Linked DNA regions of Homo sapiens: region 2 is linked to region 1. Evidence: fine-mapped expression QTL. Tissue or cell type: lymphoblastoid cells. Region 1 holds a variant in brackets; the other region holds the start of a gene. All regions are shown on one strand. Distances are from middle to middle. Region 1 overlaps MCUR1 (mitochondrial calcium uniporter regulator 1). Region 2 holds the start of MCUR1 (mitochondrial calcium uniporter regulator 1).

Region 1 (9,601 bases):
TCAGTTGTAATCTTTCTGCTTCAATTGCTTAAACTCCTTTTAAGGAGTTATTTTACTTTCGCGATTTTTGATCCAAAAGAGAGAATGAACATTCATGTACCACCCCCCACCCAAATTAACCATTATTTCAAGTCAGATTTAACGTCTTGGATTAATTAAATATTTTAAGGTTACAGCATTATTTAACAGTGAAATGTTGTTCTTTATATTAAATTGTGTCTTCCTGTCTCTATAGTGCATATACATAGACCTTGTGACCACAGAATTTTTGCTATTCGAAACTTTTATTGAAAAGTTTTCTTAGCCTAGGCAACACAGCGAGACCTAGTCTCTACAAAAAGATTTAGCCGGGCATGGTGTCATCTGCCTGTAGCTTCAGCTTCTTGGGAGGCTGAGGCAGGAGGGTCACTTGAGCCCGGGAGTTTGAGGCACAGTGAGCTGTAATCATACCATTGCATGGTGCACTCCTCCTGGGTACCAGATGAGACCATGTCTCTAAAATAAGAAAATAAAATAAAGGGTGTGGGATTTGTTTTTTCAGTAGGCAGGCGTTTCACGGAATATGGGACATCAGTGAGCAATCTAAGTTTCTAGGTTTTCTTTTTTAGGTTTTCTTAAAAAAAGATGTTCCCTCAAGTAACTCTTAATAGAACTAATAGTACTCTCAATTGTTTTTTTCTTACAGGGTCTATATTTACGTGCCTAACAGTAGCTCTGGGATTTTATCGCCTGTGGATCTAATAAAGTGTCTATTTAAAGTGATTTCTACTGTTTTGCCTTAAGAATACCAGATTGTTGGCTGGGTGCGGTGGCTCACACCTGTAATTCCAGCACTTTGGGAGGCTGAGGCAGGTGGATTACCTGAGGTCAGGAGTTCGAGACCAGCCTGGCCAACACGGTGAAACCCCGTCTCTACTAAAAAATTAAAACATTAGGCGGGCGTGGTGGCGGGCGCCTGTAGTCCCAGCTACTCGGGAGGCTAAGGTGTGAACCTGGGAGGCGGAGCTTGTAGTGAGCCGAGATCACGTCACTGCACTCCAGCCTGGGCAACAGAGCGAGACTCCGTCTCAAAAAAAAAAAAAAAACCGGAATACCAGATTGTTGTCCTTTTGTTTTCTTGTTACACATTTGAGCCCAGATTTTGACTTAATGTGTATTATTTATTTTTATGAAAATTGTGGACACATAACCAAGATAAAGAAGTCAGGTATTCCATAGCCATTCCTTATCTCCTTTCTGCTTAGTTGACTTTCTAGCTGAGTGGTGCACAGTGCATGGAAGATTCCACTTAGCCGGACCAGGAAGCTTGGTCTCATCTGTGGTGCACACCAACAGCAAACATTGATGTAATTCTCTACAACTTAATCTTTGGCACATAGAGGATTTGGGGGTCTCCATGTTCAGGGCACAATGGCTTTAATAAGTGCTGGAAAATCACTGAAGCTAAACCAAGAGCACCAGATCCTCTTTACCTAAATAACCAGTCTTTAACATGAGCTAGTCCCTGTACCATAGTATTGTTTCAGCTGTAGTTGGTTGTCATGTTAATAAGACAGCTGCACGTCTACCTTCTTTTCTTTTGATTTCCATTGTCTTGGTAAGTTATTGTTAGGGTTATTTTTAATGTGCCTTCCAGCCAGAAAAATCAGCTGTCTAAAGAAGCATTGCAATTGTAATGGGGACTCTTACCTCTTAGAATGCAAGATTTTCCCTCCTCCCTCCCTCTTCTCCATCTCTTTCCCTCATGATTTGAGAACTGTAATAATCCTCCACTGGTGGCATTACCTACCTAGAAAACCTGCTGATTCTTAGCATGGAACTTTGCTTCAGTTTGCAGGACAAAGTCTGCTTCCTTCCGGTCTTCATTTACTTTTTATACAAGGGATGCAGTCAGCTCTCCATGTATAAGATACCTAGATGATGGATACATATTTCATAAATGAAATTTATGTCATTAATGAATATCCCCTTGCCCACAACCAGCTCAGGCTTTCAAAATTCGAGAATGGTCATGCCACACAGCATTCTAATCTAGATGGATTAATTCTGTTGTTCAAAACATTCTCATACCTGCCTTTATATTGAAAACAAATTCTAGATACAACTGGGGTTATTCTGGAAAAGCACATTCTCACCTTTTTTTTTTTTTTGAGACGGAGTCTCGCACTGTCGCAGGGCTGGAGTGCATTGTCGTGATCTCTGCTCACTGCAACCTCTGCCTCCTGGGTTCAAGCGATTCTCCTGCCTCAGTCTCCTGAGTAGCTGGGATTACAGGTGCCCACCACCACGCCCAGCTAATTTTTGTATTTTTAGTAGAGATGAGGTTTCACCATGTTGGCCAGGCTGGTCTCTAACTCCTGACCTCGTGATTCACCCGCCTTGGTCTCCCAAAGTAGTGGGATTACAGGCGTGAGCCGCTGCGCCTGGCCCATTCTCATCTTATTCAAATTACTGGCACATGGGCAAGAGAGACAATGACATGGATAGAAGCTTTTCTGCCTTTCTCTGCACACACATACAGTGAAGGAACCACAGGCAGATTTTTTGATCAGTTTGGTGAATACATTGCTCGTTGTCACTGTTCCAACCACATTGGTAAAAAAAATAGTTACCTTTTGTCCTTTGGATGTCATGTCTAAACTTTGGAAAATATAAGTCATTGCCCTTTTAGAGAATGTTTGTGTAGTCCAAAGATTGTGAGCTCCATATAGTATGAAAATCAAGTACTTTTGCATGAGCAATAGCAGTTTCAAAGTGAAATATTATAATTTAATCTTTTTCAAGTAGATCAAAAATTCTTAACTGATTAATAAAATATTTTATCAATATATCATCCCCCTTTCAGAGAGAAGTCCCCAGAAGAGACAGCACACTTAGCAATTGCCCTCATTATTAAAGGCCTAGGTGAGTGGCATAAAGGGCCATATGCGATTATGTTTCAAGGTAAACATTACCTAACCTTGTGTGGGTTAAAAACAGTGAAGTGTCCTTGTATCCTGATAAAATTTTTTTTTAAATAACATGGTGGGTTGACATTTTTGCATCTGCTATAAGTTTTCTCACATGTCGTTCTTCCTGGTGAGAGCGGGCTGCATCATTCTGGCACTTAATTTGGGTGTTCGATTTTGCTATAGAGTTCTTTGCAGTACAGCATAGCCTCTTCTTGGCCTTGGGAACAGTGAACTCTTCTTTTGATGGTGTGGATTGCATGCATATCTGGAGAGAGGAGGGCTCAGGACTGTGTTCACTTTATTTGGTCAGATGTATTTTATTTGAAAACCATTTGAGCCCAAAATACAAGTGTACCCTTCCCACTTCTGGCTCAAGCACCCGTGAGCCGACTAGACGTAATATTAAAACTTACTGATGCTGGGTGCGGTGGCTCATGCCTATAATCCCAGCACTTTGGGAGGCCAAGGCAGGCAGATCACCTGAGGTCAGGAGTTGGAGACCAGACTGGCCAACATGACGAAATGCTCTCGCTACTAAAAATAGAAAAATTAGCCAGGCGTGGTGGCACACCCCTGTAATCCTAGCTACTCGGGAGGCTGAGACAGGAAAATTGCATGAACCTGGGAGGCAGAGGTTGCAGTGAGCAGAGATTACACCACTGCAACGAGACTCGGGCCCAGACGAGATCTGCCTGGGCGACACAGTGAGACTCTGTCTCAAAATAAATAAATAAGTAAATAGAACCTCCTGAGCTACCCTGGCTTATAAGGATTCAGATTACTTTAGGAAATTAGGCATTAGCACTAGGAGGGGGGAAGATGGCTGGCAAAACTTCTAGCTAGCAACCTATGTCTAGCACATGGGTAACTAACCATAGCGAGATCCTGAACACATATCCTCTAGGTGCAGGTGGAGGGAACGATGTCCAATACCTGAAGCAGAATCTCACATGGACGGAACGTCTGTATTTCCCTCTCCTGCACGAATCACTCATCATTCTTGGAGGGCTTCTCTGCATTCCTCCTTTTCTTCTCTCCCCTCCCCTGCCTTTTGTCTTTTCTAAAGAGTCTGAACTCCGATTTCCATGCTCTCCTGCTACATTAATAAGCAAAACCTGCTTGTGTGTACGGTTCTTTACTGGAAACATGACTTTTTGTTTCTGTATTGGTTTTACTGTCATCCAGTTTTCTAGTTTAATATCTAGCAAAACTAAATCTGAATGTACTCGCTTTTTCCGTTAAGTATGCCAAGCACCTCGGTTGAAAGGCTTGACTCAAACCAGAAGTCTTGCTGGAATTCGTCTCTGAACACTTGAAAAACAGAAACCCTGAGCCGCAACAAACATGCCTCTGTGTGTCGGGATTGCCTTTGTCTCTGCTTCCATGTGGCTTTTCCTTTTGTAGCTATGCTTAGTGACATAATCTTCCCTCTTCTAGCCTTCTCCTTTCAAGCCTGTCTGTTAATTAACCATGTCAGTATTGGCAAGCATTTATCTTCCCCCACCCTAACATGCAATCTTCTAAGAATTTTGCAAAATTCTAAACAAATATAGAGATGGTATATAGAATTCATATCTAGAAAACTTTGATTTTAATGTGAGCTTATCAAATTTGTTCTGGCTTTTTTGGCACTAAGGCAAAAACATGTTAACCAGAAATAATTTATTCTTCATGTATGTAAAATATTTGAGAATGTTTAGCCTTTTATTAGAATTTTATTTGGAAAATATTTATCTTTCTACACAT[T/G]TTACACTTATGTTCCTTTGCTTATAACCCAATTTCTTAACTTTTTTGTTACTTAAGCAAATATCAATTATGTTTTATTATCTAATAAAGTGTAAGATTCTTACTATCTAAAATATTTAATTCTGTGTGACTAATATACTTTTCTGATCATTCAAATTGAATATGAAAAGCTAGAATAACTGTATTGCAACTGTTAATTCCAGCCAATTGTATAATGATAACACTGGTGAATTTCTAAGTAAATCTAATACTTGAAAATTTGGGTATACATAGAAAATAAATTTTAATATAATGTACAAAGTAACTTTTCATCATTCAAAAGAATTTCTTTAGCATGTTCATGTTATGAGTAATTTTATACAAGCTACTTGTTTGAGGGGAAATGATGAGGTTTAAATACAGGTTTTTAGAAATAGACAATTTTCTTTTTTTTTTTTCTTTTGAGACAAGATACTACTATTGCCTAGGCTGGATGGAGTGCATTGGCGCAGTCACTGCTCATGGCAGCCTCGACCTCCCAGGCTCAAGCGATCCTCCCACCTCAGCCTGGGACCCAAGTAGCTGGGACCACGGGCATGCGCCACCACACCCAGCTAATTTTTTTTCTATTCTTTGCAGAGATGGTGTCTCACTATGTTGCCCAGGCTGGTCTCAAACTTCTAGGCTTAAGCCATCCTCCTGCCTCAGCCTCCCAAGTGCTGGTACTACAGGCATGAGCCACTGCACCTGGCTGAGAAATACACAATTTTAAAAAATATCTGGCCGGGCACGGTTGGTCTTGTCTGTAATCCCAGTACTGTGAGAGGCCAAGGCGGGTGGGTCACTTGAGTCCTGGAGTTCGAGACCAGCCTGGCTAACATGGTGAAACCCTGTCTCTACAGAAAATAGAAAAATTAGCCGGATGTGGTGGCACACACCTGTAGTCCTAGCTACTCAGGAGGCTGAGATGGGAGGATGGCTTGAGCCCAGGAGGTAGAGGCTGCAGTGAGCTGTGGTTGTGCCACTGCACTCCAGCCTGGGTGACAGAGCCAGACCCTGTCTCAAAATAAAATAAAAATAGCTATAAGGATTCATGGAAATCCAAATCAGGCTAGCTTGAGCAGAAAAAAGAATATCCTTTTTTGGCTTATGTAACCAAGGTTCAGGAAGGACCAAAAAAATGCCATTGTGAGAACTCCCCTCTGCACCTCTTACCTTTGCTTCTTCTCTGGAGGGCATAATCCTCCTAGACCTACTTCTTCAAGCACAGAGAGCCTGTGTGTCTGCAGGAAACACCCAGTACATCCCCTTACAGCTTAATGATTAGTGAGCTCCACCCTGAAAAATCTTGGGAAGGAAATATCTAAAGCAAGCAGCTGGGGTCACAGGAAGCAGAAGGGTCCTCAGAGGGATGCACACTTCACCTTCCCTGAGGGCCTGTTGAGCAAATTCCCCACCTCCAAAAAATTGAGCTCTTCTTGAGTCAGCCTGTGTGGGTTGATCTTCAGTGTAATTAATACCTGCTCAGGAGGAGAGGAAAGGAACATCTCAGAAAAGGGGGTAAATGAAATACAGGTCTGGGCACGGTGGCTCACATCTGTAATCCCAGCTCTTTGGGAGGCCAAGGCAGGAGGATCACTTGAGGCCAGGAGTTCGAGACTAACCTGGACCACAAAGCAAGACCCTGTATCTAAAGTGAATGAATGAATGGTAGCCTGGAAATTTCAGTTACATCTCATTTTCTCCAACCAGAAATCTTGTACCAAAGTTAGAATCAAATAACTAGACTTGAGGGGGAACTGCAAAATTTCCAGAAGGCAACTAGCAGATGAGGTAGGCAAAGGCGGTAAATGATTTGCAAACTCAACCTTCAAGTTCAAAAATGGTGGGCAATGTGTTAGATTTTAGTCATCCTTCCACATCTCCCCTAGGTCCCCATTTCACATCAGTGGTAGGGGAACAAACTAAAAACCTTTTCTTTGCCTTGAGTTTTTTATTTCTTTTTCTTTTCCTTTTTTTTTTTTTTTTTTTGAGATGGAGTTTTGCTCTTGTCGCCCAGGCTGGAGTGCAGTGTTGTGATCTCGGCTCACTGCAACCTCTGCCTCTCGGGTTCAGGCAATTCTGCCTCAGTCTCCCAAGTAGCTGGGATTACAGGCGCCTGCCACCACGTCCGGCTAATTTTTGTATTTTTTGTAGAGACGGAGTTTCACCATGTTGGCCAGGCTGGTCATGAACTCCTGACCTCAAGTAATCCGCCCACCTCAGCCTCCCAAAGTGCTGAGATTAGAGGCGTGAGCCACCACTCATAGCCATGATTTCTTTTTCTTTTTTTTTTTTTTTTGAGACGGAGTCTCGCTCTGTCGCCCAGGCTGGCGTACAATGGCGCCATCTCGGCTCACTACAACCTCTGCCTCCTGGATTCAAGCGATTCTCCTGCCTCAGCCTCCTGAGTAACTGGGATTACAAGTGCCCGCCACCACGCCCAGCTAATTATTTTGTATTTTTAGTAAAGACGGGGTTTCACCATGTTGGCCAGGCTGGTCTCTAACTCCTGACCTCAGGTGATCTACCCACCTCGGCCTCCCAAAGTGCTAGGATTACAGGCGTGAGCCACCGCGCCTGGCTGATTTCTTTAAAACTAAGAAGATTGTCTTAAAGGCATTTTCTAGAAACAGCTTTCTCTCTGGCATCCCACAGCAGATCTCCTCCAGTTGTTCCGCTGCCCATTTTGTCTCCACCTTAACTCGGCAGTTTCTGTAGGAGGTTCTTGCCAAGGACCCAAGGAGGGTGGCCTTTGGGACACTGCAGAGGGTGGCCACTGTCAGCCACCAAGGTGTAAGCATCAGCATCCTTAAATAGAGATCAGTGAGATTTTGGTCTTCTTTTATATATCACAAATCTGCAGATAAGTATTTTTAGGCAACACCTTCCGCAATGAGTAGTTGAAACATGTAGGCATTTTATAAGGTCCCAACTTGCCCTTTCAGTTTAAACTAATTTTTTTGTTTGTTTGTTTGTTTGTTTTTTGTTTTGCACATACTCTATGTTTCGGTAAACTCTGATTGGTTGTCCATGATTCTGAAGGTTCAGGTCAGCTTAATGTTAAAGCCAGGAAGAGGCACTCCCGGTTTCAGCTTAGTGTGGCATTTCTGCAGTTAACGTCTTAACAACAAAGGTTTTAAAAATACTTCTTGCTCCGCCACCTCCAGGCTTCACAGTGTTCATTCCCCCAGTGGAAAAGACACAGTTGCTTCATAGCATCTTGTCCCCTACAGCATGAAAGTCAGTGTCTTTTCCTAACACAGAAGTATTTTGCTACTATTTGTCTTTTACATTTGTGTAGTATTTTATGGAGTGCATGAACCTCACAGCCTTCTGAGGGGCGCTGTAATAGAGAGTGTCTCTCTCTAACCTCAAGAATCTCTGTGAGGCCGGGCGCAGTGGCTCATGCCTGTAATCCCAACTCTTTGGGAGGCTGAGGTGGGTGGATCACAGGGTCAGGAGTTCAAGACCAGCCTGGCCAACATAGTGAAACCCCGTCTCTACTAAAAAATACAAAAAAATAAGCCAGGCATGGTGGCAGGTGCCTGTAATCCCAGCTACTCGGGAGGCTGAGGCAGGAGAATCACTTGAACCCGGGAGGCAGAGGTTGCAGTGAGCAGAGATTATGCCGTTGCACTCCAGCCCAGGCAATAGTGTGAGACTCTGTCTCAAAACAAAAAAGAATCTCTGTGAAAATTTGAACAGACTTCGTGAGGAAAAGATGGAGGCCTGGAGGATCAAGATACACAGTGACCTCATGAAAACGCTTACATGTATTTTGTTGACATTTGTATCCCGTGGATGCTGTCAACTGCAGTTAATGTGAAATGAGCAGTGGCTTACACCTAAGAACTTCTGTTTCTTAAATCTAAAATGGGTGATCCTCAGGGTTGGATTGGCAGCTCAACAGTGCCTACAAGGATTGGAGCTCCTTTGGTCTTTCCTTTCTTACCTTCCTATACGTGTCAGCTTTCAGCTTCAGGCTGGGGGTTTATCTGATCTCAAGGGGGCTACCACCGCTCCAGGCATCACATCCTCACGATAGCACCCAGAGGAGGGTGCTATCAAGAAGGGAGGGAGGTGCGAAAGGGCCCTTCTCATGTGTCTCTCTCCTTTAAATCAGGGAGAAAAATCTTTTCCAGAATCTTCCCTGCCACAGGAACCCCCGCGTGTCTCTTAGAACAGGATTGGGTCACACAGACTGGTTGCAAAATGGAATTTTTAGCTTTTTCCGCTCCTCTGGTAGGAGGTGGACAAGGAAGAAGAAGTTGGAAGTGGTTTTCGGATGGGCATTCATCAGCATTGGTTACCAGGTTCACAAAAATAAAACACAGGCTGCAAACTGAAGAGAACCATACAGCGAGTGTTAAGTTGCCATCGCTTAGTAGCTAGAAATACTGCAGAATGTCCCCTCCTTTGATTTCCAGTGTCATGTGGTAATTTCGGTTCATTCTGTTTCACATAATTTTACCAGCTCTCTACCGAATCTTAAATTACTTTTTTTAATGTTATGGCTAGTTTCTAGGACCCCACTATAGTTCTGGATTAACTCAGATGCTTGAGGGGAAAAAAAAAAAAGTTAACCAAAAAATCCACGGCCAGCACGGTGGCTTACGCCTGTAATCCCAGCACTTTGGGAAGGCAAGGGGTGGATCACCTGAGGTCAGGAGTTCGACACCAGCCTGTTCAACATGGAGAAACCCCGTCTCTACTAAAAATACAAAAATTAGCCAGGCGTGGTGGCATGCACCTGTAATCCCAGCTACTCGGGGGGCTGAAGCCAGGGGGCGGAGGTTACAGTGAGCTGAAATCATGCCACTGCACTCCAGGCTGGGTGAAAGAGCAAGACTCCATCTCAAAAAAAAAAAAAAAAAAAAAAAAAT
Region 2 (9,601 bases), 28 kb before region 1:
GTATATAACTAGGCTGTGCTTTCTTCTTTTTTTAATCCATTCTGACATTCTCTCTGTTTTAATTGGCATGTTGAGACCAAAGGTTGGCCAACTATGGCCCATGGGCCAAATCCAACCCACCACCTGTTTTTGAACAGAACAATATGTAAAAGAGATTGCTTATGGTTCACAAAGCCGAATATTTACTATATGGCTTTTTAAAAACATTCCTCAACCACTGATTTAGACCATTTACACTTAATGTAATTATTGATATGTTTAGATTGATGCCTAATATTTTATTGTTTGCTTTTAGTTTTTATCTCTGTTTTTTGTTCTTCTATTTCTCCTTTCCTATCTCCTTTTGGGTTACTTGAACATTTTTTAATATTACATTTTATCTATTATGTGTTTTGACTTGATCATAGCTCACTGCAGCCTCAAACTCTTGGGCTCAAGTGATTCTCCCACCTCAGCCCCCTGAGTAGCTAGGACTATAAGCATTCACCACCATGTCTGGCTTTCTTTTTTTTTTTTTTTTTTTTTTTTTTGTAGAGGTGGGGTCTCACTATGTTTCCTAGGCTAGTCTTGAATTCCTGACCTCAAGCCATCCTCCCACCTCAGCCTCCCAAAGTATTGGGATTACAGGCATGAGCCTCTGTGCCCAACCTATATCTCTTTGTACAGTATCTTTATGGGTTGCTCTAGGGATTACAGTAGACATATTTAACTTTTTCTAACTCTACTTAGAATCAGTATTTTACCACTGTAAGTGCAATATGAAAACTTCACTACCATATAGGTCTCTTTATCCTTGCCCTTTTATTTTGTAGTTATTATATACCACATCTATAAACATTAAAAACTTCACCATTGTTTGAATTTTTGCTTTCTATCATTTAACATATTTTAAAGAACTAAAGAGGAGAAGAATATTATACTTATCTTGGTATTTGCCATTTCTGTTGCTCTTCCTTTATTCCTAATGCTCCAAGTTTCCTTTTGGTATCATTTCCCTACTATATGGTGAATTTCCTTTAGCAATTCTTTTAGTGCAAGCTTACTAAAAACAACTCCTCTTAGTTTTCCTTCATCTGAGGATGTCTTTATTTCATCACTTCATTACTGAAGGATATTTTTGCTAGTAATAGAACTATGGGTTGACAGTTCAAGCTAGGGGAGCTCATACATTGGAAAAAATACTAAACTAAACATCAGTTCAGTGGTACTTTGATTTTTGTCTTCTTCACTGATGTGCCTGCTATTATTTACTTTTCAGAGTCCTCAAATAGTGGCTCTATGCATTCTGTCCAGCTTTTATGCCTGCATTCAGGTGGAAAGACAGGGTGGAGTGTGCTTATTCCATTTTACCCAGAAGGAGAATCCTTTCTTCACCCTTTAACACTCTTCAATTACGGAGAATAGTAGTTTGATTAGTGGAAGTTGACATTCCCCCATCAGTGTTTACTAGTAAGAGTATCAGTATGCTAAAGGTCACATCCAGGAATGTTCCAACTCCTTTGTTCTCTCTTTGACCTGCTTGCACCGGGGACAATGAGCCCTTGACCTTTCTGTTACTACCTGCTAAAACAGACCCAGTAGATCTTTCAGGGATAGCTCTGGCCATCTTCCATCTCTTTTCTCCTGATGACACCTAGAATATATAAGGCCACCTAAACTTCTCACAGATGGTGGCTAAGTCAGAGTCTGCTCTGTGAATCCAGCTTTACTCATGGGAGGTCCCTAAGTCTAGATACAGAGAGAGAGTAAGATGGCCCCACTTTGGCCCCAGATCCAAGTATATTCACCAATCCAACTTTGTCATAAAGTCCAACTTTGTCATGGTTCACATGGGGGTTGTCTGGCTCCTGCCTGATCCATTAATTAGTTGATACTTCTTCTTCTTCATTGGCCATTAGATTCCTGTATCTAGTCTCTCTATACATAGACAGAAGTCTAACATGTCTAGATTATCCTAATGTACACTAATGTATCCGGGATAGGAATCAGAAGCCCTATCCCAGCTGGTTTAAGTAAAAGCAACTTATTGGATTACATAAATAAAATGCCAATTTCAGCCTAAGCTAGAATCAGACGCTCAAAAGGACCCGTCTCTTCATTTCTCAGTCTTCTTTTCTTCATAAGGGCTTTAGTCTTAGGCCACATGGTAGCCCCAGGAGCTCATGGTTCAAATCATCCTATACCTAGACATCACAATAAAATAAGACGACCTCTTCCCAATAGTTCCTATTAAGAACCCTAGAATTGGGCCAGGCGTGGTGGCTCACACGTGTAATCCCAGCAATTTGGGAGGCTGAGGCAGGCAGGTCACTTGAGGTCAGGAGTTTGAGACTAGCCTGGCCAACATGGTGAAACCCCGTCTCTACTAAAAAATACAAAAATTAGCTGGGCATGGTGGTGCTTGCTTGTAATCCCAGTTACGTGGGAGGCTGAGACAGGAGAATCGCTTGAACCCAGGAGGTGGAGGTTGCAATGAGCCAAGATTGAGCCACCACACTCCAGCCTGGGCAACAGAGTGAGACTCCATCTCAAATAAACAAACAAAAAAAGAATCCTAGAATTGAAGCTTTTTTTTTTTAGATGGAATTTCACTCTTGTTGCCCAGGCTGGAGTGCAATGGTGCAATCTCAGCTCACCGCAACCTCCACCTCCTGGGTTCAAGCAGTCCTCCTGTCTCAGCCTCCCAAGTAGCGGGGATTACAGGCATGTGCCACCACACCCAGCTAATTTTGTATTTTTAGTAGAGACGGGGTTTCTCTAGACTGGTCTCCAACTCCCGACCTCAAGTGATCCGCCCTCCTTGGCCTCCCAAAGTGCTGGGATTACAGGCGTGAGCCACCGCGCCCGGCTGCTCATTAACTCTGATTGGGTGACATGCCCATGCCTGTGGTCTGCAGAGCGATCAGTCTCTCCAAACCGCATGGACTGAGAGCAGAGAAGAGCCACTGCCCATGGAAAACTAGGGTGCTGAGACCAAAAGAAAGGGAATGCTTTGGAAAATAAAACAACAGGTGTCACATCCAAGGAAAAGTGGATGCTATCCAACCTGTAGTTAGAACTGACATTCATTATACTCCTATCATAGGCCAGGCACTGTGCTAAGTGCTTTACATATGTTATTGTATTCAATATGGCTGGTAATAGTAATACATGAAAAGTTAGTCAACATCATTAGGCATCAGGGAAATGTTATGTTAAAAATCACAATAAGGTACCATTTTATGAGGACTGAAAATATCAAAATTTGGCAAGGATGTGGAACAACCGAAACGCTCATCTATTGCTAAGAGTGTGAAAGGGTGCAGTCGCTTTGGAAAAACAATTCAGCAGTGTCTAAAGTTAAGCTACCATATGATTCAGCAATTTGACCCAGATACTTTCCCCAACAGGGATAAAAATTATGTCCACACAAGGTCTTATACAAGAATGTTCATAACGCCCTATGCATAATAGCCAAAAACTATAAGCAAAGCAAATGGCCATTAATAGAATGGATGACCGCTTGTGGTATGGTCATACAATGGAATACTATTCAACAATTAAAAGCAACTAATTACTGATACAACAGCATGGATGAATCTCATTGATATTGAAGTCAGACGCAAAGCAGAAGAAAGACACAAGGCAATGCATATTGTAGGTCTCCATTTACATGAAGTTCAAAAAAAGACAAAACTAATCTATGGTCATTGAAATTTGAAAATAGTTGGCCGGGCGCGGTGGCTCACGCCTGTAATCCTAGCACGTTGGGAGGCCGAGGCGGGCAGATCACAAGGTGAGGAGTTCGAGACCAGCTTGGCCAATATGGTGAAACCCCGTCTCTACTAAAAATACAAAAATTAGCCAGGCGTGGTGGCAGACACCTGTAATCCCAGCTACTCAGGAGGCTGAGGCAGGAGAATTGCTTGAACCCGGGAGGCAGAGGACACAGTGAGCTGAGACTGCACCACTGCACTCCAGCCTGGGTGACAGAGCAAGACTCCGTCTCAAAAAAAAAAAGAGAAAATAGTTGCCTTGGGGTGGTGGTGGATTGTCTGGAAAACTGGCACAAAATAACTTTCTGGAGCAATGAAAATGTTCTAGATCTTGACTGGGTGGTATATACAACTGCTAAATGTCATCAAGTTGCTAAATGACATTTATCAACTGCTAAATGTCACCTAAGTCTGTGGAATTTACTGTATGCAAATTATACCTCAATTTTTAAAAATTACAAAGGACTAACATTAAAGTTTGTGCCACAGTTTAATCGTTCCTCTAATGTTGTGCACTATTTTCCCATTTTTTCACAATCACAAATTATGATACAATGACTATCTTTTGTGCATATGTGAAATTACCAATATTAAGCATTTTGACCCATAAAAATGACAAGTTTGTATAGTCAAACCTAGTAGATATTTAATATTTTGGATTATTCCCATTATCCCCATTTTTAGTTAGGTGACTTGAGAAAAGTTTACAAATTTTTGTTGATACTCATTGCTAAACTGCTTTTTCTACCAATTTTATAAATGTATACTCCTTTTACAAAAGTGTCTTAGGTTGGTGCAAAAGTAATTGCGGTTTTTGCCATTACTTGCAATGGCAAAAGCCGCAACTACTTTTGCACCAACCTATGACTTGAATCCTGTTTTTCAGTTCTTCAAATTTTGATAGACACTTATCTTGCACATCCATATGCACGCTCCTCTCTTCCCAGCACTTTGTACATCTCTCATGGCTCATAACACATTCTTCCATCACGTATGTGTACACATATGGCTGTATAGGAAAACAGCTTCTGGAGGATAAGAACAATTTGTTTTGCGGTTTTTTATTTTTAATAAAATCTCCTAGCTTGGTGCCTTATGCATTTCATTTATTTATTCAACTAACATCTTCCAAATTCACATAAGGGACCAGTTATCTGTGAATGGTGTAACAGGCCTTCAAAAAGTCCACGAAACTAAACATTACCAGTTTCAAATATACCCGACAGGTCTCATTTTAACATTCATGCCCCACGTTTTAAGTTCCCAGATTGCTACCTTCCCATGTTTTTGGTGCTCTAATCTGGAAACAAAAACTCTGAAAATTTAGTTTTGAATGTATTATGTGAGGGCCTTTCCCTGGGCCCTGCTAATAATTCCTTAAAATGCTCCCCAGAACCACATGTTTGGGGACTTAGGATAATCAGTGAAATCTAGGGCAGCCTGTCGGTCTGAGACTTTTCACAGGACTCTGAAGGGCACCGGGGTAATTCCTTTTTAAGGACAGCAGTGCAGTGAAAATGCAAATCGTGACAGCAACAAGCTCCTTCCAGTTCCGGAGTGCCCGCAGGCTCCTCCCGGTCGCCGCCGTCGCCTAGCGAATGGGGTGGGGGCTCGCACGGTCCCCGCATCTCGGAGCGCCACGGCGGGCTCCTGCCGCCCCGCCCCACCCCACCCCCGGCGCGCGTCCCGAGCCCCGCCCGCGCGCCCGGCAGGAAAGGGCGGTCCTGCGCTGTGGCCCACGCTCGCTCCCGCTGTCGGACTCTGGGCCTGGACCGCGCGTGGCCGGCGCCAAAAGCGAGAGGCATGAGCGCGCGCCCGGGCCAGTGAACTGCTCGGGGATGGACTGCGGCTCGGTCGGCGGCCAGAGGACCCAGCGCCTGCCCGGCCGCCAGCGGCTTCTCTTCTTGCCCGTGGGCCTCAGCGGAAGACCGGGCGGCAGCGAAACCTCAGCACGCCGCTGCCTCTCTGCGCTCTCCGACGGTCTGGGGGCGCTGCGCCCTCGCGCCCCGGCGGCCCGCGGCGGCGTGTCACGTGCCTCACCGCTGCTCCTCCTCCTGCTAGTGCCCTCCCCGCGCTTGGCCGCCGCAGCCCCGCGCCGGCAGCTCGGGGACTGGGAGCGCTCGCGCCTCGGGTATGCCGCACCCCCGGCCGGGCGCAGCAGCGCGTGGAGGTGCTCACCGGGCGTCGCCGCTGCCGCCGGCGCCCTTCCCCAGTACCACGGCCCGGCGCCTGCACTCGTTTCCTGCAGGAGAGGTGAGGCCCGGGCGGGAGAGGAGAGGGGGCTCGTCTCGCGGGGTTGGACGGCGGGGCGGGGATCTCAGCTACAGCCTCCCCGAGGAAAGGCCCGGCAGGCCGGAGGGCGGGTCCTCCAAGGCCACCGGCATCTGCCCGGAGCGTGGGTCGAAGGTCCGGGCCCGCCCTGCTCGGCCGCGGTGGCGGGGCTTAGCCCAGAAGAGACGAATTCCTGGGAATCCCGGGCGCTAAAGTTGGAGGGAGGTGCGTGCTGGGGCGGGGAGTTGGTGCCCGCCCACTCCTAGGGTCTGCTTTTGGGCGCCGCCTTCCAGGAGTTCTGTTTGGCAGCGCCCAGCCTGTTGGGCGTTCAAGGGGAAGGGGTGTGTATGTTTGAGCAGCAAAGCTCTGGGAAATGAAGGGATTGCTTTACAGTTTGATTTCAAATTCTGATGGAATCATTAATTCGTGGAGTCCTAGCGTCTGCCCTGTCCCTGGCGCTTTTCTAGATGTGTGAGATATATCAGTCCACAAAATCTTCCCTCTGGAGCTTAATTCTAGCAGAGCAGACGCAGTAAATATGTGTGTGTGGATATACGTATGCATAATTGATGTATATATAATTTATATATACAAATAATTTTTATATATTCGTAATTCGATGCCTGGTATAGAAAAATAGGATAAGGCTTGGGAAGTGGAATGGGTCTCCAGTTGTGAATTTAAATAGGGTGATCAGAATCGATTTCATTGAGAAGGTAGCATTTAATTAGAGTCATGCATCTCTTCAGGACAGTCGCCTACTGAGAAATGAGTCATTAGGCGACTTCTTCCTTGTGTGAATATTGTAGAGTGTGCTTACACAAACCTGGATGCTACAGCCTACTACACACCTAGACTATCAGGTAGAGGCTAGTGCTCCTAGGCTACAAACCTGAACAGCATGTTACCGTACTGAATACTAGAGGCAATCTGAACACAATGGTATTTGCGCATCTAAATGTAGAAAAGGTAGAGTAAAAATATGTATTATAGTCTCATAGACCACTGTCGTGTGTGCCCCTCTGTCCTGGGCTGAAAGGTAGTTGTGGGGCTCATGACTATTTAAAGGAGGTGAGAGAGATCACTGCCCTGGAGATGAGGAAAGTAAATAGAATCAATTTATTAGATAGCATATTGTTGATTAAAGAAAAAAATCATTTCTGATAATCAACAGACTTGGCAAAATTATCACTTTGGGCAGTCTATACATATTCATTAGTAGCCATCACTAACTACACATTTTTCATATTTTCTTCAACAGATAGGCCCACTAAATGTTGACCATATCTATAATTTAAGAATATCATTGGCTGGGGTAAAAACTGATTAGTAGAGCAATAAAGTGAAGGAAACTTTATATACAGAGAGTGGGGAATGAGTAGTGAACTCGGTGTCACTGTCCTTCAGTAATTAGGAGTCGGAGATGAGTTTGGTCTTTATTCTGTATTTTGCCTTTTGTTGCGCTTTTTCTGACAAGCTAGTAATTTCCAATTTGTTTTTCTCTCAATGCAAGAGTATAGGGCAAAAAGAGAGTGTTCTTTCTCACGGATTTGCTGACCAATCGGTAAGGTGGTACTGTTGTTTTAGTGTCAGCTATCTCATTCTTCAGTCATCATAAAAAATGAGTATGGATGCATAAAAACAGAAGAGAGCAGAGACACAGTTAAGGAAGCATGTATGCCCATTAACCAGCCAATGAGCGTTTCCCAACCATTTGTTTGCTTGGTGCCTGAGGTTCTCGGTTGAGCTACTTAAGGATGTCATGAGTAGGAAGTTTGTATTTGGTTTCCTCATCCTGTCCAAGGCTACCTTTGGGCCTCTATTGTAATTGTGGGTTTTTAATATTCTCTTGATATGCTGAAGGTCCCCAGAAAGGGGAATTGCATGTTACACGTTGACACAGCTCAGTTGGCTCGCTTCCTTATGATCAGTGAGGAGTCTGGGAGTTGGCGGTGTCCTCAGGTACTGCCCTTTGACAGAAGGCCAAGAGGGCATTTCCTTCCCTCATCAGGGGTTGGAGTGACCAATGGAAAGTGGCCAGCCCTTCTGTCGACCTTTCAGAGGCAGGATTTCTTGGAAATAAGCTTGCTGTTTCTGGTTCCAATCTTTTTGAAAAAGAACAACAATAACAAAAAAACTGTAGTATCCAAATTGGCGTTACAAAGTAGTCATGTGATTGTTTTGTTTATGTGGGGGTGGGGGTGAGGAGGTTATGTTTTAAATACATGAATGATTATTTTCTTACTAGAAACAAGGAATTTAGGTCTAGAGTAACCCTGTCACTCTTCACAAGTCATTCCAGACTCAGGTGTTTTCGAGCTCCCTGACACATGGGGCAGTCCAGTAGAGTTCTGGGGCAGGTGAGGTGGTCCTTAGGAGGTCCCCTGGAGAAGTGCTTTCATTCCTTCACTCCCACTGTTTCTCAGGCTAGGTCTCTTCTGTGTTGGGCAGACATCCTGGGTCTCTTCTCATGGAGGCCAGTTTTAGTCTCAGGACTGGAAATAAACTAAAAAAGAGGTACCAGATTTAAGTGAGCTCGTTTATGTGAAAAGGGAAGAACTGAGGAGAAAGGAATTCATCTCAAATTTTCCCTCTAGACAGTTTCATAATCCAGATTGTAGAAGTCATTACAGTTCAATTACCAAAAAAAAAAAATTATTCCTAGCCTGCTGTATGCCAGGCCCCTTGCCAGATGCTAAAGATAAAAAATGAGCAAGACTGGCTGCTCCTGGGCAGCTTGGACAAATAGATGATACAGATGAGGAAATAATGTAGTAAGTGCTACGATGAGCTATCTGTACTGAGCTGAGAACACAGGTATGGGCTCAATAAAGGTTGCTCCCTTAGCTGGGTGGAGGAAGCAGAGAGAACCATAAAGTGTAAAAAAGAAAATGCCACACCTGGAACATAATGTATACTCAGTAAATTGGCAATTTAATGAAGAAGGGTAAAAAGAATGCTTAAAGTTTAACGATTGGGAAAGGGGAGCAAGCCATGCTTAAGCATGCAATTGCAGGAAATAGAATAGCTTAGGTTGCTAGAAAGAAAGCTGAAAGGATAAGCGTGGTCATAAATAGCAAGGGCTTTGTATGCCAGGTCAAGGACCTCCTGTCATAGCACAGTGGTTCTTTGAATCTCAGGGCCCAGTTTTACCAACAAACACAAACACACATAAGTCATTGCACTTTATATTGTGTCAGTCTGCAAATGGTTCTTGATACAGATATGGATTATTGCATCTCTTGCACTCATCTGGATGCTTACAGTGACCACAGCTACCCTCCCCTTCCCAAGCTGTGAGTAGGCTGGGAACAACTCCCATAGGCTGCAGCAAAGCGTCACATTTGTAGGGTTCAGTCCATTTTTTTGTTTTGTTTACTCTCGATTTCATTATAGGGTAATCGGGGTGAAGGACTGAGAGTGGAAGCTGATCAGCTGGAGCATCTTTCTGGTCATTCAGAGGCCTGCTGGGGAAACCTTTGACCTTTGAGTTGGCAGGTGACCCTTCTTGCTCCTACCAGACTTCTACAACACCAGACCTCAGACTGGTGCCAGTTAACGGCAAAATTAGAAAA

What was found.
Region 2: MCUR1 starts here. The variant in region 1 is fine-mapped to the expression of MCUR1 in lymphoblastoid cells (GTEx, PIP above 0.99).

The regions. Positions count from the first base shown.
Region 1 is chr6:13,781,949-13,791,549 of GRCh38, reverse strand. MCUR1 (mitochondrial calcium uniporter regulator 1) reads left to right here. Exons shown (of 9, transcript NM_001031713.4): 9 at 686-4,993. The coding sequence ends at 741. Among named protein-coding and RNA genes, the nearest start is that of MCUR1, 28 kb to the left of the region's middle. RefSeq lists a silencer at 2,229-2,397 and an enhancer at 3,066-3,898. The variant T/G (reference allele first, on the strand shown) is at 4,698.
Region 2 is chr6:13,810,422-13,820,022 of GRCh38, reverse strand. It overlaps MCUR1 (mitochondrial calcium uniporter regulator 1), which reads left to right and starts at 5,466. Exons shown (of 9, transcript NM_001031713.4): 1 at 5,466-6,008. The coding sequence starts at 5,594. LOC107986571 (a long non-coding RNA gene) reads right to left here and starts at 6,213. Exons shown (of 2, transcript XR_001743986.3): 1 at 5,934-6,213. RefSeq lists an enhancer at 4,999-5,098 and silencers at 5,259-5,528, 5,609-6,278.